Regions from separate parts of the Homo sapiens genome. Here region 2 is linked to region 1. The links come from fine-mapping of genetic effects on plasma protein levels. A gene starts in region 1. The other region holds a variant in brackets. All regions are shown on one strand. Distances are between the middles of the regions.

Region 1 (15,611 bases):
CTGAGGCTCAAACCACTCCAGAGATGACAAGTCCTGTCACCTTCAGGGAGGCGGAGGCCAAAGACAAAACTTGAAGGTCAGAGTCCAAGGCTGCCAAGCTTCGCCCCTGGGAAATAAAACTTATCAAAAATGCTACTCAGAGGGTGACCCACGCTAATTAGAAAACCGTGGCCGGCTCTGGCCAATTTCAGATCCATTAGTAAACATTTAATGAGCACCTACCTGCTGTGTGCAGCTCCCTAACTTCCAGTTTCTCAAAGAAGTTCAGACTGAAATCACTTTCAGGTTCATCAATAATGAACTGTGCTTAGCGGTAACTAAAGTCAGCTGAAAAAAGAACTTCCTGCAAGCAAGAGTACCTGAGTGCCTCATCAGAAAAGTGAGGGAGGGCATGGCAAAGGGAGAGCCTTGTCGCTCAAAGTGAGCTTCTGCCTGAGCGCTGAGCTGCAGGGGCTTGGGGGAGATCCCTGACTTTTCAGGCTCCCACCTTGGAGACCACTAGGGATAGGTCCCAGCAAAAGGACCCTGGGGCTGACCGGGACAAGTCCATTCTTACTCCTGGCTGTGAGGGCTCCCTGGAGGCCTCCATGTACCTTCAGGAAGTGGAAGGATCCCATTCCCACGAGAGCCCTTTGGCCGAGAGAAGTCCCGGGAGCCCCAAGCAGAGGCAAGAATTCCTGGGAGGGAGTGGAGCTCAGAATAGTTGATGTTGTTGGAGCAGAGAATAGGGAGAGAGACCTGAGGGAGGAGCAAAAGGAGGATACCAGAGTGACAGTTCCCGACTCAGGTAGGCCCTGGGAGATGGTGGGATACAGAAGGAACCCTCTGCCACCGGGGCCCTGGACAACCTCAGAGGGACTCCCATTCTTGCCTGCCCAGCTAGCCTTTAGAGGCTGCTGGCCTGCTGGGGACACAGAGGGTTAGAGTGCTTAGGGGATAACTATCACCTGAGGCGCATCACCCCCAACTAGCCCAGGCGGAAAGAGTTTCTGTACAAGCTCACCACATCCCACAGGCCCCCAGTCCCTTATATATGTCAAGGGCCTCTCACTGGCAGGAAATTCTTTAGATCTGACCTGCGTCATATTTGCTATAACCAAAGGCTGTTTCTTTGAGAGGTTAATCCCCAAAATTAGACACGGGAGCAGCTTCCAGCTGTGACTGTGAGGCCCTTCTGAGGCATTTGATGAGGTTGATCATAAACTTTTACTTAAAACTCAGAATTCTCATACTGAAGGCTTTGGAGATAGGCAATTCTGGATCAAAATACTGGCTCTTTCCGGCTGGGTGGCCTGAGAAAAATTACTTAACCTGTCTGAGCTTTCGTGCCTGGTACACAAACACTTAAATGCTAACAACTAGCATATTTTATTATAATCATTATTTATATAAGTGCTTAGCACAGAGTAAGCACTATACAACTGTATGTGGGGAAAAAAAATATTAGGGTAGGAGGTTTGGAATGAGTCGTGTTTTATGTTTTGAAAGATCCCCAGGGGAGAATTCCAAAACCTACCTTAGACAACCCTTGCTTCAAGTCCCCATCTTAATGGAAGTGCTCTCTGCCATCTAACCTGGCTCCCTCCTGCTGCTGCAGCTGAGGCCTAAGTCTACCAGGACTACCTGGTTCTCCCATCTCAGTCCTGCCTTCTACCCTCGTTTTTGGGCTTGCGTCTATTCCAGCCCCCTCCCATCCAGCCCCCAAGGCAAAAGGTTCACTTACTGCCCAGGTCCAGGGTCTTGCTCACAGCGCCCATCCCAGGGGCAGGCAGAGGAGCCAGTGTCTGCTGTGCGCCACCCACCCCTCTCCTCTTCCAGGGCTAGCAGGGCTACCCCGGGCTGGGGGCTGTGTTGCCGCAGCTGGCCAGGAGCCCCACCTCGCAACGGGTGGGCTTCAGGGAGAAAAGGGAGGGCCACATCAAAGCCGGGCCGGAAGGAGTCCACCGTGGGGCTGGCCTCAGCCACCATAGCCTGTCCCAGCTGGAAGGTCCTGGGGCAGGGAGCCGGGTGGAGACGGAGGACCAGATGGTTCCTGCCCCTGTTCCATTGCAGAGGCATTGAGCTGCACTCTCCAGTCTGGGCGTCCAGGCTGAGGAGGAGGAGGAGGCAGGCCCCAGCAGGGCTGAATGTGTAGAAGCGAGAGCCCTCAATGGAAGCCAGGATCCTGCGATGAGTCTCAGAGATGGTTCCAACCGCTGGGTACACGAATACCTTAAGGCCATCGCCCCTGCACTTTGAGGTATCAAAGCAAGATTCCCAGTTGCAGCTGCCACCATGAGGGGCTTGAGGAGGTGAAACGGCATCTTCTGGGAGCTCTCCAGGCTGGGAGAAGCTCTGCAGGAGCTCTGCATCCAGCCAGCGGGGCCAGCCTTGGGAAGCCCCGGGCCGAGGTCTGGGAGGCAATGCCAGGCGGAGAAGGGAGAAGCCTCCCAGCAGGACAAGCAGGAGCCAGGAGGCTGACAGTGCCAGCCACAGGGACTTTCTTCTCCTCCACGACTGCATGTGGCCACCCACAGTCAGGGCTAGGGAAGCTGGGAGGCCTCTGCCAGCAAGCAGGAAGAGCAGGGCCTGGGGCGGGAGACCAGAGCTGGGACCGACCTGCTAGTCCTGTGCTGTCATTGTACAGATGGGAAGACTGAGGCCCATCGAGACCAGGCCGCCTGTCTAAGGTCAGATAGTGAGTCACCAGCCAGGCAGGAGGAGGCCAGGTGGGACCCAGCTTGCTGGCCTGGCCCCCCTGCTCTCAGGACTCTGCCTTCTCGGCCTTTGGACAACCAAGCCAGCCTTTTCCCTCCCAGCAGGGACCCCTGCCCCTGGGCACTGCTCTGGCTGACGCAACCCCTGTCCAGAATGCAGGGCCGTGTCCCCCTGCCCTCCTGGCTGCACCCCTTGACCTTGCCCTCAACTGAGAGGAGGGCTGTCTGCCAGGCCATGGGGACCAGTCAGAGCTCCCACAGGAGGCGGCTTGGCCAGGGACAGGCTGGAGGGAGCTGGGCTGGTCTTCCCACTCCTCCCCTTGCCTGAGCAGCCCTGGCTGCCCCTGTGCCCGCTGGCAGACGCTTCTGGGCTGTGGCCCCTGTGGCTGGAGCTAAAATTAGACCCTGCATCCCATGTGGATCATCGGCGTCAGCTGAGGTCACAGCCTGGGTGCAGCCGGTGTCCCCCTGCCTTGGAGGGCCAGGAGGGCTCGGGGTCCTGATCCTTATCCACTCTGCCGCTGCACCAGCTCAGGAAGTGCAGCCCCTCTTCCCCGCAGCCCAGCAGCTGCCTTGCACCATCTGGCTTGGAGCTATCACAGTGCAGAGGCCAGGGCCGCTGTGCCAAGCCCCCCAAACCCTATGGTATCTCCTCCCATCCCTCTCCAGTCGGCAACTGGCCCATCCTGATCTCTTTCCTTAGCAGCAGCCTGGCTCCTCCCCTCCCAGCCCTGATTCGCTCCTGGCTGGGAGGCAGGGTCTCCATTTAACCCCTTCCAAACCAGTTTCCTCAATTGCTAATCCAACCAGCAAGTACTGCAACTCACAGCTGGCCATGAGTTATCACAGCCTCTGTCTCTCAGTCCTCCAGCCACCCTCCAAGGCAGAGATTTACCTGTCATTTCTTACAGATGAGGAAAGCTCAGAGAGGGGATGAACTCTTCCTAAGGTGACCCAGCTAAGAAGTGGCAGGGTGGGGATTTCAATCCTGAGCTCCTGGTCGTTGGTCACCCCAGCTGTGGGCCCTGTGGCTGGAGAAAAACTAGACCCTGCACCTGCTGTGGGCCATCAGAGTCAGTGGAGGTCAGAGCCTGAGTGTGAGGAATCTCTGAATCGGCACATGAGAAGGTCAACAGGTGAGACAAGTGAGGAGTTAAGGGGCGGGGGTGGAGGAATTGGGTAAGGTGCCCCCAACTGTCCCCAGGATTGGTCTCTCCTCCTTCAGCAGCCCCACCCCCAATCTCCTCCAATTCCCAGCCTTTTGCTCCAGTCCTTATGGAAAGTTCTTCCTGCACTTGACTCTTCCATAGTCCAGGCCCCATGGAGGGATTTCCCCGGTCAGTGCCCTGTGAGGGGAGTCAGGAGTGGGTGATGTCAGCCACTGAGGAATCTCTGGGGTGACGGGGGAGACACACTCTGGCCATGAGGAGTTCTGGGCTGATGAGGGAAGGCACAGGGAGTGGACAGACTTGAGTGGGTTCTGCCTCTTCCCCTGACTGCCTCGGGGGTGTTGGGCCTCTGTCCCCTTATCTCTGGGATGGGCATAATGTCAGCCAGGAATGGGTTGCCAGGTTGACGCAGGCCTGTCCCCTGAGGTCCCTCAACAAGTGGTGGCCTCCTTTCCCCTGCGTGCCTCCCCTTGATCTTGGAGGGCTGCTGATCAGACCAGGGAGCCACCGTGGGATGTTTTGCCCTCAGTGAGCAGCCAGTGTGAGAGTCCTAAAAATGGCCCACAAAGGGGACACTTGCCTCTTGGCACTAATGGCTCAGCCACTCGGTGATGAACTGCAGTTCCTGCATAACTCAGTCCTCCCACACTGAGAGGCATCCACAAAGGCCACTGGCTGCTTCGCACGCCCCCCCTTTCACTGTGCCCAGCCAACTCCTCATCCTGCAGGAGTCAGCTGAAAGCTCCCTCCCCACAAGAAGCTTCTCCAATGCTCCGCAGGCTGGGTTAGAGCCCCCGTCTAGGTCCTCATGTCATTCCTTCATCCCTCTATCCCCATACACAGTCATCCATTCATCTAACAAACACTTATGAGTGTTGAATATGGGCCAGGTTCTGAGCTAGGCCAGGAACACAACCCTGAGTAAGAGTAATCATAGCTGACACTCGTATTGCACTTACAGCGTGCCAAGCATCCCTCTTTTGTATCAGCTTGTTTCATCCTTTCCCCAACCCTAGGAGGGAGAAACTGTGATGATCCACATTTTACAGTTGGGAAAACTGAGGCCGAGGGAGCTTAAGTAATTTGCCTGAATTCTCACGGCTTAGCCAGGACTTGGACCCAGGTAGTGTGCTCCTATATCCGCTGCACCATTCCAGCTCCCAACAGGGAGGGAGACAGACGCGTCCCCACCCTCCAGAGCTCGCTGTCCTGGAGAAGACAATTATAGAACTAGGCAATTGCAGGCAATTACAGAATGAGGGGAGGGGACCCTGAGAGTACACAGAGGGGCTGCCTAGCCCAGGGGGCCAGAGAAGGCTTCCGAGGAAGTGATACCTACCCTAAGACCTGAAAGACAGCAATGTGGTTTTTAGAAAAATCGCTGTGGCTGTCTGTGTGGGATCAGACAGGAAATGGCAGGACTGGAGGCAGGGACAGCTTTTTGACTGGTCTGTCACCCCACAAGTCTCTCATTCATTCAACAGCTATTTACTGAACCCCTATTGTGGGGCCAGGCAGGTCTTAAGGGCAGTGAGCAAAGCAGAAAAAATCTTGCCCTCCTGGAACTTACCCTCCAGGGAGGGGAAATAGGCAAGAAACAAAATGAATAAATATCTCATACTATTTGACAATAACTGCTGGGGAGATGGGATGGGTTGCAATGTTAGACAGAAATACGGGAGGCCTCATAAAAAAGCTGGCATTTGGGAGGCTGAGGCAGGCGGATTACAAGGTCAGGAGATTGAGACCGTCCTGGCTAACACGGTGAAACCCCGTCTCTACTAAAAATACAAAAAATTAGCCGGGCGTGGTTGCAGGCGCCTGTAGTCCCAGCTACTCGGGAGGCTGAGGCAGGAGAATGGCCTGAACCCGGGAGGCAGAGCTTGCAGTGAGCCGAGATCGTGCCACTGCACTCCAGCCTGGGGGACAGAGCGAAACTCCATCTCAAAAAAAAAAAAAAGCTGGCATTTGTGGCCTGGTGCAGTGGCTCACATCTGTCATCTCAGCAATTTGGGAGGCCAAAGTGTGCAGATCACTTGAGGCCAAGAGTTCGAGACCAGCCTGGCCAACAAAGCAAGACCCCATCTCTACTAAAAATACAAAAACTAGCCCGGCGTGGTGGCGCACGCCTGTAATCCCAGCTACTTGGGAGGTTGAGACATGAGAATTGCTTGAAGCTGGGAGGTGGAGATTGCAGTGAGCCGAGATTACGCCACTACACTCCAGCCTGGGTGACAGAGCGAGTCTGCCTCAAAAAACAAAACAAAACAAAACAAAAAAAACTCTGGCATTTGTGTAAATTTCTGAGAAAGTGAGGGAGTGAGTGAAGAAGTATATTTCTAGGGGAAAATCGCTCCAGGCAAGAGGAACAGCCGGGCCACAGGTTCTGAGGCAGGAGTGTGCCTGCCACGTGATTGGTACGCTCTGACCTTGTTTTCACAGCACGACTCAGGCTGCAGGGAAGAGGCCGGCTGTAGGGTCAGGGACAGCAGCAGGGAGCCCTGCTGGGCCAGGCTGTAGTGCAAGTGAGCCACTGCGGTGGCTGGGACCAGGATGGCAGGGGTGGGATGAATAGAAGTAGTTGGATTCTGGGTATATTTTAAGCCAGGGCAAATTGACAGATTTGCTGATAGATTAGATGTGAGGTCCGGCCTGCACCACAGACAGGGTGGAGTTGTCATTAACTGAGATGGGGAAAACTGAGGGGAACAGTTTTAGGGAAGAAGATCAGAAGTCTGGTTCTCATATATCCTTCTTATCCCCAGCAATAATAAAATAAATGTCCAGGTTGGGCACAGTGGTTCACACCTGTGATCCTAGCATTTTGGGAGGCTTAGGCAGGAGGATCCCTTGAGCCCAAGAGTTTGAGACCAGCCTGGGCAACATAGCGAGTCTTTGTCTCTACAAAAAAAAAATTTTTTTTAACTGGAGCTGGTGGCTCATGCCTGTAATCCCAGCTGCTCGGGAGGATGAGGTAGGAGGATTGCTTGATCCCAGGAATTTTAGGCTGTAATGAGCTATGGGTGCCACTGCATTCTAGCCTGGGCACAAGAGGAAGACCCCATCTTTAAAAATATAAAACAAATATAAATAAATAAATAAGCCAGGCATGATGGCATGCACCTGTAGTCCCAGCTACTCAGGTAGCTAAGGTTGGAAGGTCAGCGGGAGGATCTCTTGAGCCCAGGAGTTTGAGATCAGCCTAGGCAACATAGCAAGTCTGTCTTTATTTATTTATTTTTTTAAAGATATATGTATCCAACAAATACTTGTTGAATGAGTGAAGGAATGGAGGGACGGACAAAGTTGAGATAGCTAGGAAGCCAAGCCCAGCTGGTTTGGGGTTTGGAGGAATACCTAATCCCGTTCTATTAATAGCTCTATGTGTCTCCCACCCCAGCCCTGGGGATGCTGGCTGGCTCCTGCCCATGCCCATATTTGTGCACACACATAAGCCTTCTCCTACCTTCATCCCTGTGGAGGAGGCTCTCAGGCCAGCTGGAATCTGGGCTTGTCTAGCCTGCGATTCACGTGGTTGCCCTGGGGCTTGGATGGAGGAAGAGAAGGCCAGGGCATCCTGGCAGGCAGGACTGAGGTCAGGGATCTGCCAGGGGCCTCCGTCGGGCTTTTCAGTGCTCAACAAAGCCACCAGGAGCCTCCATCCTATACCTGGGCTCTGATCAGTGGGACAGAAATGATCACTTTGGGCGACGGGAATGAGCCAGAGCAGGAAGGAGAGGACAGCACTGAGTGGGAGGAGAGGCCCTGGCCTCAGGTGCAATGAAGGAGGCTTCCTGGAGGAGGCAGAGGACTTGTTTCTTACAGGACAGGATTGAAGCAGGCCTTTGTGTGAATTTGAGGACACAGATGCCTCTGGAGGCATCGCAGAGCTCTGAGCACTGCAGCGTGTGTCATAGCTGCGGTGGTGTCACAGCTGCCTGGGGGCTGCCTGGGCATGGGGGTGCTTCCTGCCTGAAGCACCAGGTGTCATATTGGCTAGGATGCCCAGGCAGAAAATGGGGGCTAACAATACCGTGTTTCACCTGAAGTGTTTCCTCTCTGCACCCTGCTTGGCCTTCCTTCCCTCCCTCCCGCTTCAGGCTGGGCCTGAAATCTGCAGAAGGAATGGCCCTGGCCCTCAGAGGAAGGGACCCAGCACTATAGAATGCTGTGGTTAAGAGCACAGCTCAAGTGCTCTTAACAAGCCGTGTGTTCCTGTGAAGTTACTTCACCTCTCTGTGCTTCTGTTTCCTATCAGTAAAATGGGGATGCTAATAATAGCTCCTTCCCTAAAGGCTTACTGGGAAGGAGATTAAAGAAATGAGGTAGTGAGTGTGCAGCATTCAGCATACCACGCCTGGTGTGGAGCAGGCGCCTAGCAAATGGCATCCTTCTGTCCCTCCTCAGACCCAGGGAGTTGAGGTGACTTGCCCAAGGAGCGCCAAGGTATCCATCTGGGTGGATTGGGACCAAGACTTGGGCTTCCCCCTCCCTGTTTCTCTTGCTGCATCTCCACCTCCATTCAGGAAGAAAGAAGATACTTGGACTCCAGGAAATGATCACCGTGGAAACCCATCTGCTGCTTCTTGTCTACGGCTGTTTGTTCCTCCAGCTCTGGGCTGCCTGAGTGTCTCACAGCAGAATTAGCAAGTGCGGAGGCTGAAGGTTTCTAGAGGCTCTGAGGTCACAGCTCTCGCTTGAGTGCACATAACTATAAGCCATGGTGAGTCCCAAGACTCTGCAATATCAGTCAACTCCAGCAGACACTTCAGTCTGGCCCTGTAGACAACCCCCTAACCCCCGCCAGGATGCAGAGCAGTTCCTGGACCCCACAGGGTGCAGGGCCAGGCAAGCCATCCAGGGGACCTGGGGACGGGGGTTGGAGAAAGTAGGTTCTAGCCTCTGCTCCTCTTCTAGGCGTGGCTATGTGATCTTGGACAAGTCACACCCTTTTCCTGGGCCTTCATTTTCTTTTTTATTTATTTTTTAAATTTATTTTTCATTTTAAAATTTGTTTTAGAAACTGGGTCCTACTCTGTCACCCAGGCTGGAGCGCAGAGGTACAATCACAGCTCACAGCAGCCTCAAACTCCTGGGCTCAAGTGATCCTCTCACCTCGGCCTCTTATACCGGGACTATGGATGTGAGCCACCAGAACTGGTCCCGGGTTTTTCTTTTCTTTCTTTTTTTTTTTTTTTTTTTGAGACAAAGTCTCACTGTGTCGCCCAGGCTGGGGTGCAGTGGCGCGATCTCCACTCACTGCAACCTCTGCCTCCCAGGTTCAAATGATTCTCCCACCTCAGCCTCCTGAGTGGCTGGGATTACAGGCAACCACCACCATGCCTGGCTAATTTTTGTATTTTTAATAGAGACAGGGTTTTGCCATGTTGACCCGGCTGGTCTTGAACTCTCAACCTCAGGTGATCTACCCACCTCAGCCTCCCAAAGTGCTGGGATTACAGGCATGAGCCACCGCACCCAGCCTTGGGCTTTCATTTTCTTATCATCAACCTGAAGTGGTAGCAGAACTAGGCTTTTCAGAGCAAAAAGATTTGAAATTCTTACTCAGAAGTAATCCTGACAGAGCTTGGAAGGTCAATCCTTCCATTTCCCATCCTGTCAACACCACTTTGTTAAGGAAAATTTTGTAAAGCTTGGAAGTGAAGCAATGAGGAGCCTGTGTGGCCTTAATCCTCCCACTGGGGCATTGCGTAACAAGCCCTCAAGTGTTGTAGGACTCCCTAAAGGGAAGTAACTTTGTTTGACCTTTTTTTTTTTGGAGACAGGGTCTCGCTCTGTCACCCAGGCTGGAGTGCAGTTGTGTGATCATGGCTCACTGCAGCCTTGACCTCCCAGGCTCAAGTGATCCTCCCAACTCAACTTCCTGAGTAGCCAGGACTACAGGCCCACACCACCACACCTGGCTAATTTTTTTTTCTTTTTTAGAGATGAATTCTTTGTTGCCCAGGCTGGTCTCTAACACCTGGGCCCAAGCCATACTCCTGCCTCACCCTCCCAAAGTGTTGGGATTACAGGCATGAGCCACTGTGCCTGGCCTTGTTTGACTTTTTACTCCCTATGTACAAACTTTTTTCATTTTGTTTTGTTTTGTTTTGTTTTTGTTTTAGATGGAGTTTTGCTCTTGTCGCACAGGCTGGAGTGCAATGGCGCGATCTCGGCTCACTGCAACCTCTGCCTCCCAGATTCAAGCAATTCTCCTGCCTCAGCCTCCCAAGTAGCTGAGATTACAGGTGCCCACCATTACACCCGGCTAATTTTTGTATTTTTAGTAGAGACGGGGTTTCAACACATTGGCCAGGCTGGTCTTCAACTCCTGACCCCAAGTGATCCACCCACCTCGGCCTCCCAAATGCTGGGAATACAGGCGTCAGCCACCGCGCCCAGCCTGGCCCAAACATTTAATAAGTCTGAGAACTATGGTGCTAATGTATAGAAAACAGATTTTTGTCCAATAGTGATACAAATGACTTCTGACCAATAGGGATCACCCCTAAAGGTTCTAGTTCATGCACTATAGAGCATTCCCCAATTTGGAATCTAACTAGCAATCTTGTTCTGGCATTCCCTGTGCTTCCTCAACTCCCATCAGTGGGTTCTCTGAACCAGCTCTGTCATCCTGAGAGTTGCCTCATGAATAAGTGAAACAACAGAGACATGTGCTTACTGTGTATTTGTATGATTTTTTTTTTTTTTTTACATTTAGAGGATTATAATTTGGGAGCTCACTGAGGCTCATTTTCCTCTTCTGTAAAATAGGGAATTCAAGGGAGAAGTTGAATGTGTGTCAGGCACTACTGAGCTCTTTAGATCCAGAATTTCATTTAAGCCTCACAAGAAAACTGCCAGGGCAGATGGCTATTCCCCTGATTTTACAGATGAGGTTCAGAGAGGTGAAGTGATTGCCCCAAGGCCACACAGCCAGTGAGTAACAGGCTGGATTTGAGCCACTGCATCACAGGAGGCTAATTCCCTCCTCACAGGCTTACGGTGGGACTCATTGGATGAGATAAGGGTGGAAAAGTGCTTAGCAAACTGTACAGGTAGATACACAACTGATCATTATAGTCAATCCGAGCCCACCTTGCCTTACCTTTCTCCTCATGCCACCTTGCCTAAGACCAAGTCTACCTCTAATTAATGTTGTCCCAGACCCATATGGACTTCCACTGGGATGGCACCAGTTTCAAGAGGCTACAGAAGAGAAATGAAGCCAGAAAATGAGACATAGGATTTATTTGAGGAGGCTTACATACAGGATGGTCCCATGGTGGCAAGCTGGATGGGAGAACCACAACCGCTTGCAAAAAAAATGCAGTTTATACAGTACCCTCGGCCAGGCACAGTGGCTCATGCCTGTGCCAGCATTTTGGGAGGCCGAGGTGGGTGGATCATGAGGTCAGGAGTTTGAGACCAGCCTGGCCAACATGGTGAAACCTCATCTCTACTAAAAATACAAAAATTAGCTGGGTGGGTGGCAGGCGCCTGTAATCCCAGCTACTCTGGAGGCTGAGGCAGGAGAATCATTTGAACCTGGGAGGCAGAGGTTGCAGTGAGCCGAGATGGTGCCATTATACTCCAGCCTGGGTGACAGGGCAAGACTCTGTCTCAAAACAAACATATATATATATATATATATGGCATCCCCACATAGCACCCTCCCTCAGCATCCTTCATGTGGCAGCTCTTGTTTCTTCAGTTATTGCTGTCAGGTGCATCTACCATACACCAGCCACCCCTAAACACCACCCAGGGCCTCTCCCTCTGGGAGGTGGGTCTCTGCTTCCTCTAGAGTGAGTTTCTGTTATCCAGAGAAAGCCAGGGGGGATTAAGGTGACCAGGCATCCCTGGTCCATCCCCTCACACACAGGACCTTGTTCATACCTCAAGCTGCAGGTTGAGCTTTTAGTCCTGGCCACCTCTTTGGGGGCTGTATTCCTGGGACAGGGGTCTGGGGAACATCCCATATTCCTGGGACAGGGGTCTGGGGACAAGCCAAGTGAAGTAAATTTCAAACCCTGATTCTGAAGCCATTCTGTGCCATCCTCCTGAATGTCTCACCTGAATTGGACCTGTTTGAAGGCTACAGAAGCCGTGCCCAGCCTCCCTCAAGTTAGTTTCTGGACCCTTCTAGAGCAGCCCACGTCTGAACACCTCAGCTCTGGGTACCAAGGGGTTAATGCATGGAGCCAGCTTGGCAAATGTTTACCTAACAGGCAGGCTGCTGCCAACCCCAGGTAATTAACAGTCTGCTTTCCAAAGCCCAGACACGAAGATTTCTTTCTCCTCTCCTCCTTTCCCAGGGATGCCTCTTGGCAGAGTGAACACAGCTGTCTGTTGGCTCTTTGAGAAGATGCCCAGCAGAGGTGGGAGCTGAGGGCAGGGATCAGGCCTGGAGGGAAGCAGGCCCAGAGGTGGGCACCAAGGAGGAGATGGAGGGAGCTTTGTCCCATTTCTCTCTGAGTCTTGGCCCCATCTTGGAAACCTGGCCCCAGACTGCCATTCTTGAATATGTGATAATTACTGCTATAATTGGTGGAGCCCCTGCAAGGGGCTTACATACTTTGCCTCACTTAACTTTCACAACTACTAGAAGAGCGAGGCCCTCTTATCTCTGCTTTCAGATTAAGGAAGGGAGATGCAGGGTGATGAAATCACTTGTCCAGGCTGGGGGCAGTGGCTCACGCCTGTAATCCTGGCCCTTTGGGAGGCCAAGGCGGGTGAATCACGAGGTCAGGAGTTCGAGACCAGCCTGGCTAACATGGTGAAACCCTGTCTCTACTAAAAATACAAAAAATAATTAACCGGGCGTGGTGGCAGGCGCCTGTAATCCCAGCTACTCAGGAGGCTGAGGCAGGAGAATCGCTTGAACCCAGGAGGCGGAGGTTGCAGTGAGCAAAGATCACGCCACTGCATTCCAGCCTGGGTGACAAGAGTGAGACTCCATCTCAAAAAAAAAAGAAAGAAAGAAAGAAAGAAAGAAGTCACTTGTCTAGGGTCACCCAACCAGTGTGGGGTAAAGCCCATACTTGAACCACAGTCTACTTTCCCTTATGGAAGAAAAAGCAGTGGATTTGTTCAGTACCTACTATATACTGGACGCTATGTTGGACACTTTATGTTTACCTCTAATCCTGGAGGTGTCATTTCCTTAAATTGCTTTAATAAGCCATTAGCATCAGAAGAGTGAGATAGTCACTTGAGCCCAGGAGTTCAAGACCAACCTGGGCAACATAGTGAGACCCCCCCCCGCCCATTTCTTTTTCTCTCCTTTTTTTTTTTAGACGGAGTTTCTCTCTTGTTGCCCAGGCTAGAGTGCAATGGTGTGATCTCGGCTCACTGCAACCTCTGCCTCCCAGGTTCAAGCAATTCTCCTGCCTCAGCCTCTCGAGTAGCTGGGATTACAGGCATGCACCACCACGCTCAGCTAATTTTGTATTTTTAGTAGAGATGGGGTTTCTCCATGTTGAGGCTGGTCTCGAACTCCTGACCCTAAGTGATCCACCCGCCTTGGCCTCCCAAAGTGCTGGGATTACAGGCGTGAGCCACCACGCCCGGCCACAAGACGCCCCCTCATTTCTTAAAAAAAAAACAAAAACCTAGCCTGGCATGGTGGCACGTGCCTGTGGTCCCAGCTGCTTGAGGCTGAGGTGGCAGGATCACTTGAGCCCGGGAAGTTGAGGCTGCAGTCAGCTGTGATTGTACCCTTGCACTCCAGCATGAGTGACAGAGCTAAAAAAAAAAAAAAGAAGAGTGAGATAGTACAATTCATAAGTAGGGGAGGAAGCATAAATGTGCATCTCAGAAATAAGAATAGAATGAGCCTCAAGTTGCTTCTTGTAATCTGAAAGGCTCCTTGTTGGATGGTCATCAGCCTCATCTTCAAAGAAACCCTGAAACCAGCCTCGCTCCCACCTCCCCTGCCCTCACCCTAAGCTAAGCCGCCTTGCTCACCCGGGATCATTGCATTGGCTTCTGGTCCCTGCTTTCCTCTCGCCTCACTAAAGTACTTTCTCCTCCCAGCAGCCAGAGGATCTTGGTAAAATATAAGCCCACTCTCTCCTTGGCTTTGACACTGTATTAACCATTGTCTTTTTATTGCCTGTATTTTAATGCTCTGTCTCACTGGGGCCTGCCCTGGAAAGACTGCCCCTCCCAGAGCTAGCCAGTTCCTAGAGAGAGCAAGCCAAGGGCCCTTGAATATGCCTTTCAAGTGCAAAGCAACCAATCAAGAGCTCACACCCCATGCCACCTCCTCTACTGGGCTCTCACACTCAGGGCCACGATTCTCCGGCCCTCATCACCCCAGAGCCAGGTACCAGACTACTAGGGAAAGCCCCTATCCCCTGAGCTGACAGTGTTCAAACTAGAAAATGCTAAGCCTGCTTACCCTGCCTTGCCCGTTCCTTTCCAAGGAAGCTAGACAGAGTGGGAATGGGGTTTGGCTTCAGCTCACCCCCACTAGAGCATTCTTTCACACATTCTCACTGATCATAAAACCCATACCATTACCTCGCTGACACCATCCCCGCTAACGCCAAGGCTTTAGCCAAACAAAGAAAGTCGCCACTGCCGGGCACGGTGGCTCACGCCTGTAATCCCAGCACTTTGGGAGGCCGAGGTGGGAGGATCACGAGGTCAGGGGATCGAGACCATCCTGGCTAACATGGTGAAACCCCGTCTCTACTAAAAAAATTCAAAAAATTAGCCGGGCGTGGTGGCGGGCACCTATAGTCCCAGCTACGTGGGAGGCTGAGGCAGGAGAATGGCGTGAACCTGGGAGGCGGAGCTTGCAGTGAGCCGAGATCACGCCACTGCACTCCAGCCTGGGGCAACAGAACGAGACTCCGACTCAAAAAATAAAAATAAAAAAAGAAAGTCACCATTCTATATTGTAGAGTAACTGATTTACAGGTTTGTTGCTGCTGGTCAGACCACCACCAGATGGCCCATTACTCAAGAAAACCATCCAACCGGATGTGCTGACCTGCATCTCCTACCTCTCACATGCTTTGCCCAGCCCAGCCTGCATAACCTACCCACCATCATTTCCCATGCTTTGCCTAATAAAAAATCCCAGCCAGCTCTTTTCAGAGAGTCAGCCAGGGAATTCTCTCGCTCTCTTGTGCTGCCTCCCTTATGCTGAAGCATAAGCTCCAATGAAGTCTTGTCTGGTTAAACTCTTTTGGCCTCATGTCAATTTCTATTGCATTGGCAGCCCAACAACCTGTGGTTGGTATCAAAATCACACTAAAGGCTCTTGCCCACCCTTTCTCCCCTCTGCCACCTGACAGACCCTGGTGTTTCCTCATGTGTCTCCCATGCATAGCATGCCCCCTTTGGGATCTGTGAGTGTAACACACTTCTTTTTTTCTTTCTTTCTTTCTTTTTTTTTTTTTGAGACAGAGTCTGGCTCTGTCTCACCCAGGCTGGAGTGCAGTGGTGTGATCTCGGCTCACTGCAACCTCCGCCTCCCGGGTTCAAGTGATTCTCCTACCTCAGCCTCCTGAATAGCTAGGATTACAGGCGCCCACCACCATGCCCAGCAAATTTTTGTATTTTTAGTAGAGACGGAGTTTCACCATGTTGGCCAGGATGGTCTCAATCTCTTGACCTCGTGATCCACCCACCTCGGCCTCCCAAAGTGCTTGGATTATAGGTGCGAGCCACTGCGCCCTGCCACAAACTTCTTTTCAATAGTAGTCATCTCCTGATCTCCTGGCCTCAC
Region 2 (15,611 bases), 59 kb after region 1:
CATGTCCTTTGTCCACTTTTTTCTTTTTTTGAGTCCAGTTTCTGCAGAATGCCTACTTTTTAATGGGATTATGTGTTTTTTTTTTTCTTGTTGAGTTGTTTGAGTTCCTTGTAGATTCTTTTTTTTTTTTTTTTTTTTTTTTTTTGAGACAAAGTCTTGCTCTGTCACCCAGGCTGGAGTGCAGTGGTGTGATCTCGGCTTACTGTGACCTCTGCCCCCCAGGTTCAAGTGATTCTCCTACCTCAGCCTCCTGAGTAGCTGGGATTACAGGTGCCCGCCACCATGCCTGGCTGATTTTTTCGTATTTTTAATAGAGACAGGGTTTCACCATGTTAGCCAGACTGGTCTCAAACTCCTGACCTCAAGTGATCCACCAGCCTTGGCCTCCCAAAGTGCTGGCGTTACAGGCGTGAGCCACCATGCCCAGCCTTTCCTTATAGATTCTGGATATTAGCCCTTTGTTGGATATATAGTTCAGAAATATTTTCTTCCATTCTGTAGGTTGTCTATTTACTCTGTTGATTGTTTCTTTTGTGGTACATAAGCTTTTTAGTTTAATTCAGTCTCATTTGTCTGTTTTTGGTTTTGTTGCATTTGCTTTTAAGGACGAATTCTTTGCGTGAGCCAATGTCCAGAAGAGTTTTTCTTCTAGGATTTTTATAGTTTCAAGTCTTATGTTTAAGTCTTTAATCCATCTTGAGTTAATTTTTATATATGCTGAGAGATATGGGTCCTGTTTCATTCTTCTTCATATGGCTATCCAATTTTTCCAGCACCATTTGTTGAATAGGGTATCTTTTCCCCATGTATATATTTTTGTTGACTTTGACAAAGATCAGTTGGTTGTAGGTATGGGGGCTTTATTTCTGGGTTCTCTATTCTGTTTCATTTATCTATTTTTCTGTGTTTATACAAGTAACATGCTCTTTTGGTTACTATAACCTTGTAGTATAATTTGAAGTTGGGTCATGTGATGCCTCCAGCTTTGTTCTTTTTGCTTAAGGTTGCTTTGACAGGCTCTTTTTTGGTTCCATATGAATTTGAGGACTTTTTTTCTAATTCTGTAAAAAATGGCGTTGGTAGTTTAATAGGAATTGCGTTGAATCTGTAAATTGCTTTGAGCATTATGGTCATTTTTAACAACATTGATTCTTCCATTCCATGAGTGTGGGATGTTTTTTCCATTTGTTTGTGTCATCTACAATTTCTTTCATCAGTATTTTGTAGCTCTCTTTGTAGAGATCTTTCACCTCCTTGGTTAAATGTATTCCTAGGTTTTGTTTTGTTTTGTTCTTGTTTTTGTTTTTGTTTTGGTGGCCATTACAAATGGGATTGAGTTTATGATTGGGTTCTCAGCTTGATTGTTATTGGTGTATAGAAATGCTACTGATATTTTTGTTTGTTTCTTCATTTGTTTTTTATAGAGACAGTGTCTCACTTTATTGCCTGGGCTGGTCTCAAACTCCTGGGCTCAGGCGATCCTCCTGCCTCAGCCTCCCAAAGTGCTGGTGTTATAGGCATGAGCCAGTGCACCCAGAAAAATCACCACCACTGATTTTTGTACACCAACTTTGTATCCTGAAACTTTACTGAAGAGTCATTTTATTTATTTATTTATTATTTTGGCTTCCTCAATCATGGTATTATTATTTATTTCTCTTTAAAAATATGGAAAGCTTAACGAATTTGCATGTCATCCTTGTGCAAGCGCCGTGCTCATCTCTGTATTGTTCCAGTTTTAGTATATGTGCTGCCAAAGCGAGCACTGAAGAGTCTTTTCTTCATAGAGCAGCCAGAGTGATCCTTTTAGGAATTTAGTGAGATCTTCTCACTCTTCTGCTCCGAATTCTCCAGTGGCTCCCAGTCTCCCTAAGAGCCAAAGCCAGACTCGATTATCCTGCCAGGTATATGTCATGTGGCCCTCCAGTCCCTCCTGGCCTCCTCCCCTGCTGTTCTTCCCTTGGCTCACTTCACTCTCACCACATGAGCCTCGAACGCGCCAGGCACGCTGCAGCCTTAGGGCCTTTGCACTGCTCCTCCCTCTGTCTAGAACATTCCTCTCAGATAGTCTCGTGGCACACTCCCACTTCCTTCAAGCCTGGCCTCAAATCTCACCTTCTCAGTGAGGCCCACCCTGACCACCCTTTTTAAAACATTGGCCTGGCCAGGCACCGTGGCTCACGCCTGTAATCCCAACACTTTGGGAGGCCGAGGCGGGCGGATCACAAGGTCAAGAGATCGAGACCGTCCTGGCCGACATGGTGAAACCTCGTCTCTACTAAAAATACAAAATTAGCTGGGTGTGGTGGTGCATGCCTGTAGTCCCAGCTACTTAGGAGGCTGAGGCAGGAGAATCACTTGAACCTGGGAGGCAGAGGTTGCGTTGAGCCGAGATTGACCACTGCACTCCAGCCTGGTGACAGAGCAAGACTCCATCTCAAAGAAAAAACAAACAAACAAAAAACATTGGGTCCTTCCTTTCTCCCTTCACTCCAACCCCTGGCCACCACCAGTGCTTCCCTTAACGGGCTCTATTTTTTTTCCATGGCACCTCTCCCCTTTTCACATCCTATATAGTTATTATGTTTATTGTTTGTCTCTGCCACTAGATGATGAGCTCTGTGAGGACAGCAGTTTCCATCTGTTTTGTTTGTGGATATATTTTTAGCTCAAAGAACAGAGTGTGGCACATAGTGGATGTGCTTATTGTTTTTTGAATTAATGACTATGTAGTACTTATACATTGAGGACCTATTCCGTGCCAGGTTCCTGGCAGGGCACTGGGAATCCAAAAATGCATGAGAGTGGTCCCTGCCTTCTGTCCCAGAGTCTGTTTGTTTTGAGGAAGGACACCATTCATCTGCTTAGCTTGCCCTGCTCCCTCAGCCTGAGGGCTTGGACCCTTTGTGCCTGTTCTTGCCGTGTAGTTACCCCTATTGGCTGTGAGCTCAGGGCCCCTTCTTGAGTCATTCCTGGAGTTTCGCTGCTCCATGATGTTGCTGTCCTCTTGCTCCTGCCCTTCACTGAAGTGGTCCTGGATTTGCACCCACAGGCTGAGCTGTCAGATACTGCTTTTTGCCTAGTAACCTCCTTGAGCCTGGAACTAGACTTTTCATTTTCTCAGCCTTTTTTTTTTTTTTTCTGAGACATGGTCTTGCTGTTGCCCAGGTTGGAGTGCAGTGGCATTATCACAGCTCACTGCCGCCAACTCCTTGCCTCAAGCAATCCTCCAGTCTTGGCCTCCTGAGTAGGTAGGACTTCAGGCACACACCACCATACCTAGCTAATTTCTTAATTTTTTTGTAGAGTTGAGGTCTTGCTACGTTGCCCAGGCTGGTCTAGGAACTCCTAGCCTCAAGTGATCCTCTTGCCTCAGCCTCCCAAAGCACTAGGGTTACAGGCATAAGCCACCATGCCCAGCCCTCTCTGCCTTTCTGACTTGGATTTGAATTCTGTCTCTACCACTTAATAGCTCTAATGACCTTGGGCAACTCAGGTAGCTTCCCTGATCCTCAGTTTCCTGAATTACATAATAAGATTAGTATTAATACTTAGTTCATAGGGATATGGTGAAAATTAAATGAAACCATGAATGTAAAGCATTTAGTACAATCCTTAGAATGAATTCTCCATCAATAAATGTTACCCTCTGTTATTATTATCGTTATTGAATTGTTATGGATTATGTAAGTCATTTATAAAGGCACTGAATAAATGATAGTTATCGTTACCGCCACCACCACACAACCCCACCAAAACCAGTCCTTTTGGTATCCCAGGCGCTCCTCTCTCTAGGATGACCCCTTCAATGCATGTCAGCTACTCTTTGACCAAACCTCACAATGATTTGCCTAATGTTCCTGTTTTTTTCCTTTTCAGACCTGAAAGAAGACTATAATCAATGGAACAACCTTATTGAAGGCATTGGACCGTCGCTCACCCCAGGGGCCCCCCACCATCTGTCCAGCCTGTAGGCACAACTGGCCATTTGTAAAGTCACTTCAGCCAAGTTTTCATTTGGGAGCTACCCAAGGGCACCCATGAGCTCCTATCAAGAAGTGATCAACGTGACCCCTTTTCACAGATTGAAAGGTGTAATCACACTGCTGCTTGGATAACTGGGTACTTTGATCTTAGATTTGATCTTAAAATCACTTTGGGACTGGGATCCCTTGCTGATTGACAAACAGACTTTCTGGGACCTTGATGGAGTGGGGAACAAGCAGTAGAGTGGGACTGGGGGAGACCCAGGCCCCGGGCTGAGCACTGTGAGGCCTGGATGTGAAGACTCAGCCCAGCGAAGCTCATTCCCTTACCCCCGGCCAGTGCTGCTGCTTCAGTGGAAGAGATGAAGCCAAAGGACAGAATGAAAATCCCTACCTTCAGAGACTCTAGCCCAGCCCAACACCATCTCTTCCTACCTCTCAGCCTTCTCCCTCCCCAGGGCCACTTGTTGAAGTCTGAGCACTTTATGTAAATTTCTAGGTGTGAGCCGTGATCACATTTTCTATTTATTTCCAAGTCTTCTCATTGTATGGAACATAGTACTACTTATACTTACAGTAGTAAGTTATACTTGTGAGCCCACAGAGTGGCAGACAGCATGGCTCTCACAGCACAGGGAGAAAAACTGAGGTACACAGAGGTACCTCAGAAGCTCTGGATGTCTTTGGGGGTTTTGCTAAGTGTATCTTGATAGGAAACAACAAAAGCAGGTTGAGATGGGGAAGATGACAGAACAACAGTGTTAAATGGCCATTTGCACAGGCCTTTGCCACAACAGAGAAGTAGTTTGGTCAGCTAAAACTCAGCTGCAGCCTGGACAGTAGAGCGAGACCCCATCTTAAAAATAAAGAAGGCTGGGCGTGGTGGCTCATGCCTGTAATCCCAACACTTTGGGAGGCCAAGGCAGGCAGATCACTTAAGGCCAGGAGTTCAAGACCACCTGGCCAACATGGTGAAACCCCGTCTCTACTAAAAATACAAAAAATTAGCCTGGCGTAATGGCAGGCGCCTATAATCCCAGCTACTCAGGAGGCTGAAGCAGAAGAATCACTTGAACCTAGGAGGCGGAGGTTGCAGTGAGTCAAGATCGCGCCACTGCACTCCAGCCTGGGTGACAGAGCAAGACTCTGTCTTAAAAAAAAAAAAAAGAAAAAGAAAAATTTAAAATAAATAAAATTTAAAAACGCAGAAGGCCACTCCCAGAGAGGCCTAGGAGTACCTTGGTCATTTTTTCTTGCCTCAAATATTATAAACCTCCAACTTGCTCAGAATCAGGGTGCTTTTATTGTCTGTTTTCTGGCTCTGAGGCCCTTGCCCCAAATTTAAGTCAGATACAGACTGAATTTCCATTCTGTTCTGTTTATAATATGAATGATATTAATACTCTTGTTTGCTTAATGTTATGTTGGAATTTTCTGTTTAATCTGCAGTAGAGCAAGATGGAGAGCCATCTGGAATTGACTTCCTTCTGTCTTTCTTCTGTGTTCGCTTACTACTTGGGCCCATGTGGGAAAAAAACTTTAAAAGGAAGGAAGTCTTCTTAGGGATCCAGTTCAAAGCTATTTGGGGGCATCAAACTGAAACTCTCTTCTCCACTACTCAAGACTTCGTGCCTCAGTCCAAGTAGGTAAGAGCAAAAGGGAAATGCATCTCTACACAATGGCCCATGGTCAGGGCCACCAGAGCAAGCTGGGCCTAGATCTCCACCTGTCAGTGACTGGCCATTCTAAGAGGTGAAACAGCAGATCGTTGAGGCTGTGAGGGAGGATCTTTGAATTCCCATGAGACATAGCATAAGAAGGGTATCATTAAAGCCCTGGGCTCTAAAGTTACAGAGCCTGGTTTTGAGTCCTGGCTCCACCACTGCCAACTGGGTAAATTTGAGCAAATGGTATTCTCTTTCTTATCTCAGCTCCTGCGTTTCTAAAATGAGGGTCTGCGTTATGAATAGTTAGGAGGATTAAGTGAGAGGATGTATAACCCATGGGTTACTTAAAAGTATATTTCCTACCTTCCAAACATGAGATTTTTCTAGTTATAGTTTCTTTTCTAGCTTGATTGCTTTGTGGTCAGAGAAAATGACCCATATGGTTTCCATCCTTCAAAATTTGTTGAAACTTGGTTGTTGGCCTAGTATGAGATCAATGTTGTAAATGTGCCATGTATGTTTAAAAAGACTATATATTCTGAAGAAGTTGTTGGCTTGCTCTTTTACTCAAGAACACATCATAGATTTCTGTCTTTTTTTTTTGAGATGCAGTCTCACTCTGTCACCCAGACTGGAGTGCAGTAGCATGATCTCGGCTTACTGCAACCTTCGCCTCCCAGATTCAAGCAATTCTCCTGTCTCAGCCTTCTGAGAAGCTGGGACTACAAGTGCACGCCACCACACCCAGCTAATTTTTGTATTTTTTTAGTAGAGATGGGGTTTCACCATATTGGTCAGGCTGGTCGCAAACTCCTGACCTCAGATGATCCACCTGCCTCGGCCTCCCAAAGGGCTGGGATTACAGGCATGAGCCACCGTGCCGAGCCCATAGATTTCCTTCTATGAGAGCACAGACAGATATATAATGGGGCCTTCCAACTACCACATGGGCACCAGAGACCCTCAGCACTTGCAGAACCAGCCGTAGGCCAATCCTGAGCATACGCCACCCTTGTGCTGATTCCACAAATGCTGAGAGGCCGGTTCTGGCAGTAGCAGCATGTGAGACCCAGGTTCTACCTTAGCTCCATAAATAACACAGGTAAATTTTACAAAACCATGAACAAGAGACCTGGAGCCTCCCTAGTGAAGGGAGTGTTCCAGAAACTAGATCCCTTTCCTTCATTCAATTCATGTTCTGGTAATCACTCATTTATCCAGCAAACACTAGAGTATGTGAATTTTCCATATAATTGAAAATTATCCTAGAGGCAGCAAAATATAATATTGATTATTTTGAATGGTAATCTACCAAAAAGATAATACACACACTTTTTAATCAAAGTGAGCTGACCTCGTTCAACCTTTTAGGATGTTCCAGTCAGGATAGACTAGGTTGTATGGTGGTAACAGGCAATCCCAAAAGCAACAAAAGTTTATTTCTTGCCCATGCCACTTGTGCTCTTTGATCGGCTGCAGGCTCTGCTCTGCATCATTTTTATCCTCACTCTAGGATCCAGGCTGGTAGAGCTGCCATTATCAGAAAGTGTTGCTGTTCACCATGGTGGAACAGGAAGAAAGCCTGATGAATCACCCGCTAGCTCTGAGAGCTTCTGCCCGGGAGTGACTCTCGTTATTTCTATTCATGTGTCATAAGCCAAAGCACGTCCTGTGGCCATTCCTAACATCCCAAGAAAGCCAAAATATTTGTGACCAGGTCTCATGTCAGAGAAGTGGTGTCCTCTGATCTAGGAAGGTGCAGAAAGCTGTTTGGCTTGCATGGGGTTGCCCCCTGTGCTGCGTTGCTGTTCAGAGTTGGTGTTGTCTCATTTGTGGTCAGGCTGCAACCATCGCTCTTCAACGCACCAGCCCCTAGCAGCCCTCCCTGGCCACTTCAAGTTTATGACTTTCGATGCGCAATGGACTGATAAATCAGCCACATTATTTAAAACTCTGTCTAAGGGAAAACAAGGCAGTCAGTGAGCAAGGGTTTTAGGGACTCCCTTGCAGCTAAAGTATGTCACCTTTAGCGCATGGGCTTCGTAATCCTCTGACTGCTCCAGAAGGGGTATCACAAGGCCTTTGGTCTCTCATTCTGGTTTTTGGTTAGCTTCCAGGGGCCTGAAGGATACTTCATAAATGGCCTTTAGATAAGCAAGGAAATCCTGATGATAACTGACATGTGCTGATAAATTGCATCCTAGTGAATCTTTTCCAGAAAGAGGATGTCTTGGGTTTCTTTTCTTTTTTTTTTTTTTTTTAGTAGAGGCGGGGTTTCACTGTGTTAGCCAGGATGGTCTTGATCTCCTGACCTCGTGATCCACCCGCCTCGGCCTCCCAAAGTGCTGGGATTACAGGCATGAGCCACCGCGCCCGGCCTGTCTTGGGTTTCTTTGGCATCTTCTCATTCCCCATCCCGCTGCAAGACTCTGTGCCTATGGAGGCCTCCTAGTGGTATAATGTGAAGTTTCTGTGCATGGGATGGCAAGCCAGTTAGGAAGGAAGGTAAGTAAATATCCCTTCCACTTCCTGGACTTCAGACTAAGGCTGGTTGGATTCTTGCTGTGTCCCTAATGCAATCCCCGAGCCCCTTCCACTGTGCATTCTGACACAGCTGCCCCTCTTGTCCTTCCTCAAAAATTCTATTGGGCTCTTGAAATGTCAAATGATGGATTCCAACTCCGTGTCTTGACCTT[G/A]TGGGGACCTTCATCTACCCCCTTTTTTTCTGGAGCACCACTTATCCCTAGGCTCACAAAGTGACAGAGGGACAGGAGAGGCCATACTGTATGTTTGGGACTCATCCTCATTAGGAAGCTCACTTTCTATCCCATCATAGCCAGGTGCAGAGGGCAGCTGTCCCTGGCCATAGCTGCAGGGCACAGTGACAATGAGGGTGCTGAGGATGATTGTCGCTGTGTGTCAGGACTGTGCTCTGGGCTGACATGCATCATTTCACTTACTTCTCATGGTAACCCCACCAGCTCAGGTGGCATTGGCCTCATTTTATGTAGGAGGAAACAGGCTTCAAGAAGCGATTTCATCAGGCTCTCAGCAAGAATTTGGCAAAGCTGGGACATAGGCATCAAAGTTTGAGGGTTTTTTTTTTTTTTTGAGATGGAGTTTTGCTCTTGTTGCCCAGGCTGGAGTGCAATGGCATGATCTCGGCTCACTGCAACCTCTGCCTTCAGGGTTCAAGCGATTCTCCTGCCTCAGCCTCCAGAGTTGCTGGGATTATAGGCATGTGCCACCACGCCCAGCTAATTCTTGTATTTTTACTAGAGATGGGGTTTCACCATGTTGGTCAGGCTGGTCTTGAACTCCTGACCTCAGGGGATCCACCCGCCTCGGCCTCCCAAAGTGCTGGGATTACAGCCATGAGCCACCATGCCCAGCCAAGGGTTTTTGTTTTGTTTCGTTTTCTTGAGATGGTCTCCTGTCACCCAGGCTGGAGCGCAGTGGCGCAATCACAGCTCACTGCAGCCTCGACCTCCCAGCCTTAATCCATCTGCCTGCCTCAGCCTCCTGAGTAGCTGGGACCGCAAGCGCACACCACCATGCCCGGCTAATAAAATCTGAGCTCTTAATTACTGTGCTGTTAACCCTAATATACATACTTGGCTTTGCAGTTTCTCCCATTTCTTCAAACTCTCAGGATATAGGGAATGTATTAATCTCATGATCAATTAACTAAAAAATACCAAAATCTTCAGCAACTTCTACATGACCTGTGTTGAGTTTCAGTGATATCCTCAGCATTATTGAGAAATGGGTTGAGGGAGAAAAATGGCTTCACCGGAAACTGGGTCAGGTACTTGGTTGATGGGTGGGGTGTGGGGTGTTGTTTGTTTTTTGTTTGTTTTTGAGACAGTGTCACTCTGTTGCCCAGGCTGGAGTGCAGTGGCATGATCACTGCTCACTGTACCCTCAACCTCCCAGCCTTAAGCAATCCTCCCACCTCAGCCTTCCAAGTAGCTGGGACTACAGGTACATATCACCACACCTGGCTAATTTTTTGTTTATTTTTTGTAAAGACAGTGGTCTGTCTGTGTTGCCAGGGCTGGTCTCAAACTCCTGGGCTCCAATGATCCTCCTGCCTCAGCCTCCCAAAGGGCTGGGGTTACAGGTGTGAGCAGTTCAGGGACTAAGAACACAGTCTTTGAAATCAGACAGCTCCAACACTATTAGCCCTGTGACTTTATGCTAACTCATTCACTTCTATGGCCTTTAATGTTCTTATTTGTGAAATGGGGATTCTAATAGTATTTAACTCATAAGGTGGTTGTGATAATTAAATGAAATAATGCATGTAAAGCACTTAACATGGTGGCTAGATTAAGGACTTAATAAACATTAGCTATTACCAGTCTTGTTTCATTTGGGCCTCCTTACATAGCTGTAAGGTTAGGTACAATGGGCCCTTGAACTAAATGGCCCCAATGATCTTGGTCTAAGTGCTTTTTTTCTTTTTCTTTCTTTTTTCTTTCTTTCTTTCTTTCCTTCCTTCCTTCCTTCCTTCTTTCCTTTCCTTTCCTTTCACTCTTTTCCTTCCTTCCTTCCTCCTTCTTCCTTCCCTCCTTCCTTCCTTTTTCTCTTTCTCTTTTTCTCCTTTCTTTCTCTTTCTTTCCCTCCCTCTTCCCTTCCTCCCTCCCTCCCTCCCTCTCTTCCTTCCTTCCTTCTTTCCTTCCTTCCTTCCTTCCTTTCTTCCTTCCTTCCTTCTTGTCTGAGTCTTGCTGTCACCCAGGCTGGAGTGCAGTAGTGGGTTCACAGCTCACTGAAGCCTTGAATTCCCAGGCTCAAGCTATCCTCCTGCCTCAGTCTCCTGAGTAGCTGGGATTACAGGCATGCACCACCATGCTTGGCTAATTAAAAAACATTTTTTTTTTGTAAAAACAGGGTCTCCCTATGTTGCCCAAGCTGGTCTCAAACTCTTGGGATAAGTGATCCTCCCACTGCAGCCTCCCAAAGTGCTAGGATTATAGGCGTGAGCCACCATGCCTGACCATTGGTCTAAATTGTTATTCCAGCTTCTACAGTCTCACGGTTACCTTCCTCGAGTGGACCCTCCTAACTGCCAGCCACCTACTACCATTGTGTCCTCATGTCAGGGTGGAGCTAGGTGGAGAGACAGTTTCCCATTCTCTTTGCTCTGCTATCCCTGCTCCTCACATGAAAAATCAAAATCCCCACCCTAGTTCTAGCCTTGCTTGCTTTTCCACCTGGAAGAGTCCACACTCTTAGGTTCTGGTTTGGGTTTTAATTTCACACCAGATCATCCAAACACATCTATGCCTCAGCTGCAAATTGAAGATCCTAAAATGTCAAAAGGGAGAAACAGATCTGTGGAGAGGTTGGCCAAAGGGAGGAGCTGGGGGCAGGGGCTTTGTAGCAGAGGCTAGTTGTCTTAATTTTTGTCTGCTGCCTTTGACACCAGGTGAGGGGGTCAGAATGCATGGTGACCTCCTCAGGGGAAACCCCCAGGCCTGCAGATGGCCGGTGAATTGGCTCTGCACAGCTCCCTCCCTCACGGTTTCCTGCCAAGTCCTCCTGTTTCTTCACTCTTGGTGGTTCTCCCACTCAGCCCATCCTTTCCATCTTGTTTGAGCCTGCTGTCCTGCCAGCTCACCCCTGGGCTCATTTCGCAGTCTTCTGGACTGTAATCTCTCTTTCCCCCCGGCGTTCTGCTGCCAGATCTGCCTGAAATGCTGCTTTTGCATGAAAATACCAGCCTGGTAAGATGGTCTAATGGTAACAGGACGGACTCGTTGTCTGGAGCCCTGGGTTCTTGCCTCTATCACCTGTTTGCTCTGTGATGTGTACGTGTGCATGTGCATGTGTGTGTGCGTGTGTGTGTGGTTTTCCTCTCTCAACTTCAGCTTTAGTTTCCTTATCTGTAAATTGGGACATGGGTTGGTGGTTGTTGAATTGGCCGGTCTCTAAGGCCCCTTCAGTTCTGGCATTCAGTATCTCTGTTATTGAGGTGTCATGGATTTCCAGGAATCCCCTTTCCTTTTTTTCTGTTTCTTTTTTTTCTTTTTTCTTTCTTTTTTTTTTTTTTTTTTTTTTTTTTTTTTTTTGTGATGGAGTCTTCCTCTGTCGCCCAGGCTGGAGTGCAATAGCACGATCTCGGCTCACTGCAACCTCCGCCTTCCAGGTTCAAGCAGTGCTCCTGCCTCAGCCTCCCAAGTAGCTGAGATTACAGGCATGTGCCACCACACCTGGCTAATTTTTGCATTTTTAGTAGAGATGGAATTTCATCATGTTGGCCAGGATGGTCTCAAGCATCTGACCTCACGTGATCCACCCACCTTGGCCTCCCAAAGTGCTGGGATTACAGGCATGAGCCACCGCGCCTGGCTTCCCCTTTCCTGTAGAATCGCACTACACTTCTTCATTCTTTCTGACCTCGCCTCTCCTCTCCTGCCTTCTACTTCTTAATGTGCACTCTTCCCACAGTCCCCTTCATTTGCCCACACATTCCCCAAACAAAACGTCACCCAGGCTGGAGTGCGGTGGCGCAATCTCAGCTCACTGCAACCTCCACCTCTCAGGTTCAAGTGATTCTCCTGCCTCAGCCTCCCAAGTAGCTGGAATTACAGGCACGCACCAACACGCCTGGCCAATTTTTGTATTTTAGTAGAGATGGGGTTTCACCATGTTGGCGAGGCTGATCTCAAACTCCTGACCTCAAGTGATCCGCCTACCTCGGCCTCCCAAAGTGCTGGGATTACAGGCGTGAGCCACCGCGTCCAGCTCTCCTGAGGATTTTCTTGCCTGCAGGGCTTCCCCACCTCATCCCCACCTCCTTTCTGCACATCCAAATCTTGCTAATGCTTTAGGCTTATTTCTAATCCCACCTCTTCCATGAAAGCCTTCTTGATTAAATTTGACTAACATTTGATCTCTTGGCCTCCTGTTCCCCAAGAGAAATCCAGTCTGTGCCAGATTTAGTATTGCCCTTTATCACATTATTCCAGGAGCAGGGCCCATCTGTTGTACAGGAAAGAGCATCCTCCTGTTGACTGACATGGGGGACAGGGATCCTTGGCCCCAGCCCCCCATCAGCCCTCGTTCCCCAGACAGACTTGGGAACAGCTGGAGCTCACCCAGCCTTCTGACATCTCCAGCTGCCTCTGCTTCCTTTTCTTTTGGTTTTCCCAGGTCCCAGCTGTGGGGCCAGGGCAGAGCCAGCAGCAGCACAGCCAAAGCAGCTGGAGCGAACTTCTAAGTTGCACGGACAAGTAGCATTTGGGAGTTAGAAGGAGTGCAGAACTGAGCACAAATCACACCAGTGTTGAAAATGAGGGAAAGCAGTTTGCCAGCTTATTTTTCCCATCTTGCTTTCATCTAAAAAAAGAAGCTGCTCAGAAATACAGTTCTTTTCAGCCTGTTAAGCCAGATGGCCCCGAGATGCTCAGCCTGCCAAGTGTGTATATATAATTATTCATCTTCATGGAATCACACCCAGGTTTGAATCCAGACTCTGACATTTTTCTTTTGTTTGATCTGGAGCCAGTGAATCTTTCCGAGCCTTTGTTTCTTTTTCTGCAAAATGGGGACACTGGCATCTACCTTGCCCACCTCAGAATTTTTTGGGTAGGATTAGGGATGGGCTTAATGTAAGATGTCAAAGCACCGGACACATATACGTTGCTGTTAATTATAAAAAGTGCCATATTTTGGTTTTGTCCTAATGTGCTACTTCTTAATGAGCACTTATTCTGGCCAGATACTCTGCATTGTATCATTTAATCCTAACAACATTCCAGTAAGGTAGTGCGTGTTAGCCTCATTTTGTAGATCAGGAAGGCGAGACTCAGAAAGATTTGCTAGCCCAGCCAAGTCACCCAGCATGTAAGTGCTAGAACCAGTATTTGAACCTAAATGGTTGGGCTCCAAAGTCAGTGGGGTTTTGGGGGGTTTATTTTTTTGAGACAGTCTCACCCTGTCGCCCAGGCTGGAGTGCAGTGGTGCAATCTCGGCTCACTGCAAACTCCACCTCCTGGGTTCAAGCAATTCTCATGCCTCAGCCTCCCAAGTAGCTGGGACTACAGGTGCACTCCACCACACCCAGCTAATTTTTGTATTTTTAGTAGAGATGGGGTTTCACCATATTGGGCAGGCTGGTCTCAAACTCCTGGCCTCAAGTGATCTGTCCACCTTGGCCTCCCAAAGTGCTGGGATTACAGGTGTGAGCCACTGCACCGGGCCCAGAGTCAGTGCTCTTAACTCCTGGTCATTACTATCTCACAATAGGAAAGAGATTCTTGACCCTAGGTAGGCTAAAGTAGCCCACAACTTGATATCCAGCTAAATGCACTAAGCAGTTAGGTCCAAGAGCCGTTTTAATTGAAGACCAGACTGAGTTCTGACAGTAAAATGTACACCTTGAATTGTTTTTCTAGCAGTAAACGGGCTCCATTCATTCATACACCTTGTATAAAGTGAACAATTCAGGGGACAAACCCATTAGTACCATACCCTGTAAACCACAGAGCCAACCAGCTGGCAGAAAAAATTTTTTTAATCTCTAGCCTAAATATTGTAGATTAGCGATTCTCAGCTCTAGATGCACATCCAAATCACCTGGGAACTGCATAAAAATCCAGGCCAGGCACAGTGGCTCATGCCTGTAATCCCAGCATTTTAGGAGGCCGAGACGAGTGGATCATTTGAGGTTAGGAGTTTGAAACCAGCCTGGCCAACATGGTAAAACCCCTAAAAATACTACTAAAAATATAAAAATTAGCCGGGTGTGGTGGTGCATGCCTGTAATCCCAGCTACTCAGGAGGCTGAGGCAGTAGAATCACTTGACCCCGGGAGATAGAGGTTACAGTGAGCCAAGATCATGCCACTACACTTCAGCCTGGGCAACAGAGCAAGACTCCATCTCAAATAAATAAATAAATAAATAAAAATAAAGATACAGATACCCTGGCCATGACTCCAGAGATCCAGAGATGCTGATTCAGAAGGTCTGGAGGGGGGCCCAGGTGTGTACATGTGTGTAAGTTCCAGGAATATTACTTCCTGATACACAGTGAAGTTTGAGAATCCTTGCTGTGGTATAAGCCTTCTAGTCTATTTTTTTTTCTTTTTTTTTTTTTGACACAGAGTCTCGCTGTGTCACCCAGGCTGGAGTTCAATGGCATGGTCTTGGCTCACTGCAACCTCCGCCCCCCGGGTTCAAGCAATTCTCCCGCCTCAGCCTCCCAAGTAGCTGGGATTACAGGTGCCTGCCACCATGCCTGGCTAATTTTTGTATTTTTAATAGAGACAGGGTTTCACCATGTTGGCCAGGCTGGTCATGAACTGCTGACCTCGTGATCTGCCCGCCTCGGCCTCCCAAAGTGCTGGGATTACAGGCGTGAGCCACTGCACCTGGCCTACTAGCCTATTTTCTTTTATGAAATAAGAGTAATTGCTAGCTGAAAACACAGAATCATTAAATTTTAGAATTGGAAGAGGCCTTAAGTTATTTGGTCCATGAGGAAACCAGAGCTCAAAGAAATTCAGCAGGTGGTTGGCAGACTTGAATTAAAATCCAGATCTTCTGACTTGTAGTCTAGTGTTCTAGATACATCCGTGGATGCCAGGATTTTGTTGGATTATTAAGAAAATCCTCAGGACCCACCCTTTCACCATGACATCCGTGATTTCTGGCAACTGTACCATGGAGTTTTGGGTCTTTTTTTTTTTTTTTTAAGAGATGGGGTCTTATTCTGTTGCCCAGACTGGAGTGCAGGAGCACAATCATAGCTCACTACAGCCTCAAACTCCTGTGCTCAAGTGATCCTCCTGCCTCAGCCTTCCAAGTAGCTGGGACTACAGGTGTGTGCTACCACGTGAAGCTTTTGAAGTTTTTGTATAAGAAGAAGCCTGGGCTAGAAGGCCTATAGGAAATGACTCAGATGGCAGTTCTCATGCATATTCCTATATTCTACAAGCACACTGATTCCT

Direction of the effects. Alleles are on the strand shown, and positions count from the first base shown. The strength of an association depends on the size of the effect and on how common the allele is.
In carriers of allele G in region 2, the plasma level of the protein whose gene starts at base 3,374 in region 1 tends to be higher than with A alone (weak association).

The links. PIP is the chance, under the fine-mapping model, that this variant and not a neighbour inherited with it causes the effect. Protein levels are from antibody-based Olink assays in UK Biobank. Linkage for the fine-mapping came from a reference panel and not from the study's own genotypes, which makes the PIPs less certain.
Region 2: its variant is fine-mapped to the plasma level of the EXTL1 protein (UK Biobank, PIP 0.92).

The regions. Positions count from the first base shown.
Region 1 is chr1:26,009,538-26,025,148 of GRCh38, reverse strand. It overlaps EXTL1 (exostosin like glycosyltransferase 1), which reads right to left and starts at 3,374. Exons shown (of 11, transcript NM_004455.3): 1 at 1,724-3,374. The coding sequence starts at 2,502.
Region 2 is chr1:25,950,352-25,965,962 of GRCh38, reverse strand. PAFAH2 (platelet activating factor acetylhydrolase 2) reads left to right here. Exons shown (of 11, transcript NM_000437.4): 11 at 3,880-6,196. The coding sequence ends at 3,974. It also overlaps the pseudogene RNU6-110P. Among named protein-coding and RNA genes, the nearest start is that of PAFAH2, 40 kb to the left of the region's middle. The variant G/A (reference allele first, on the strand shown) is at 8,350.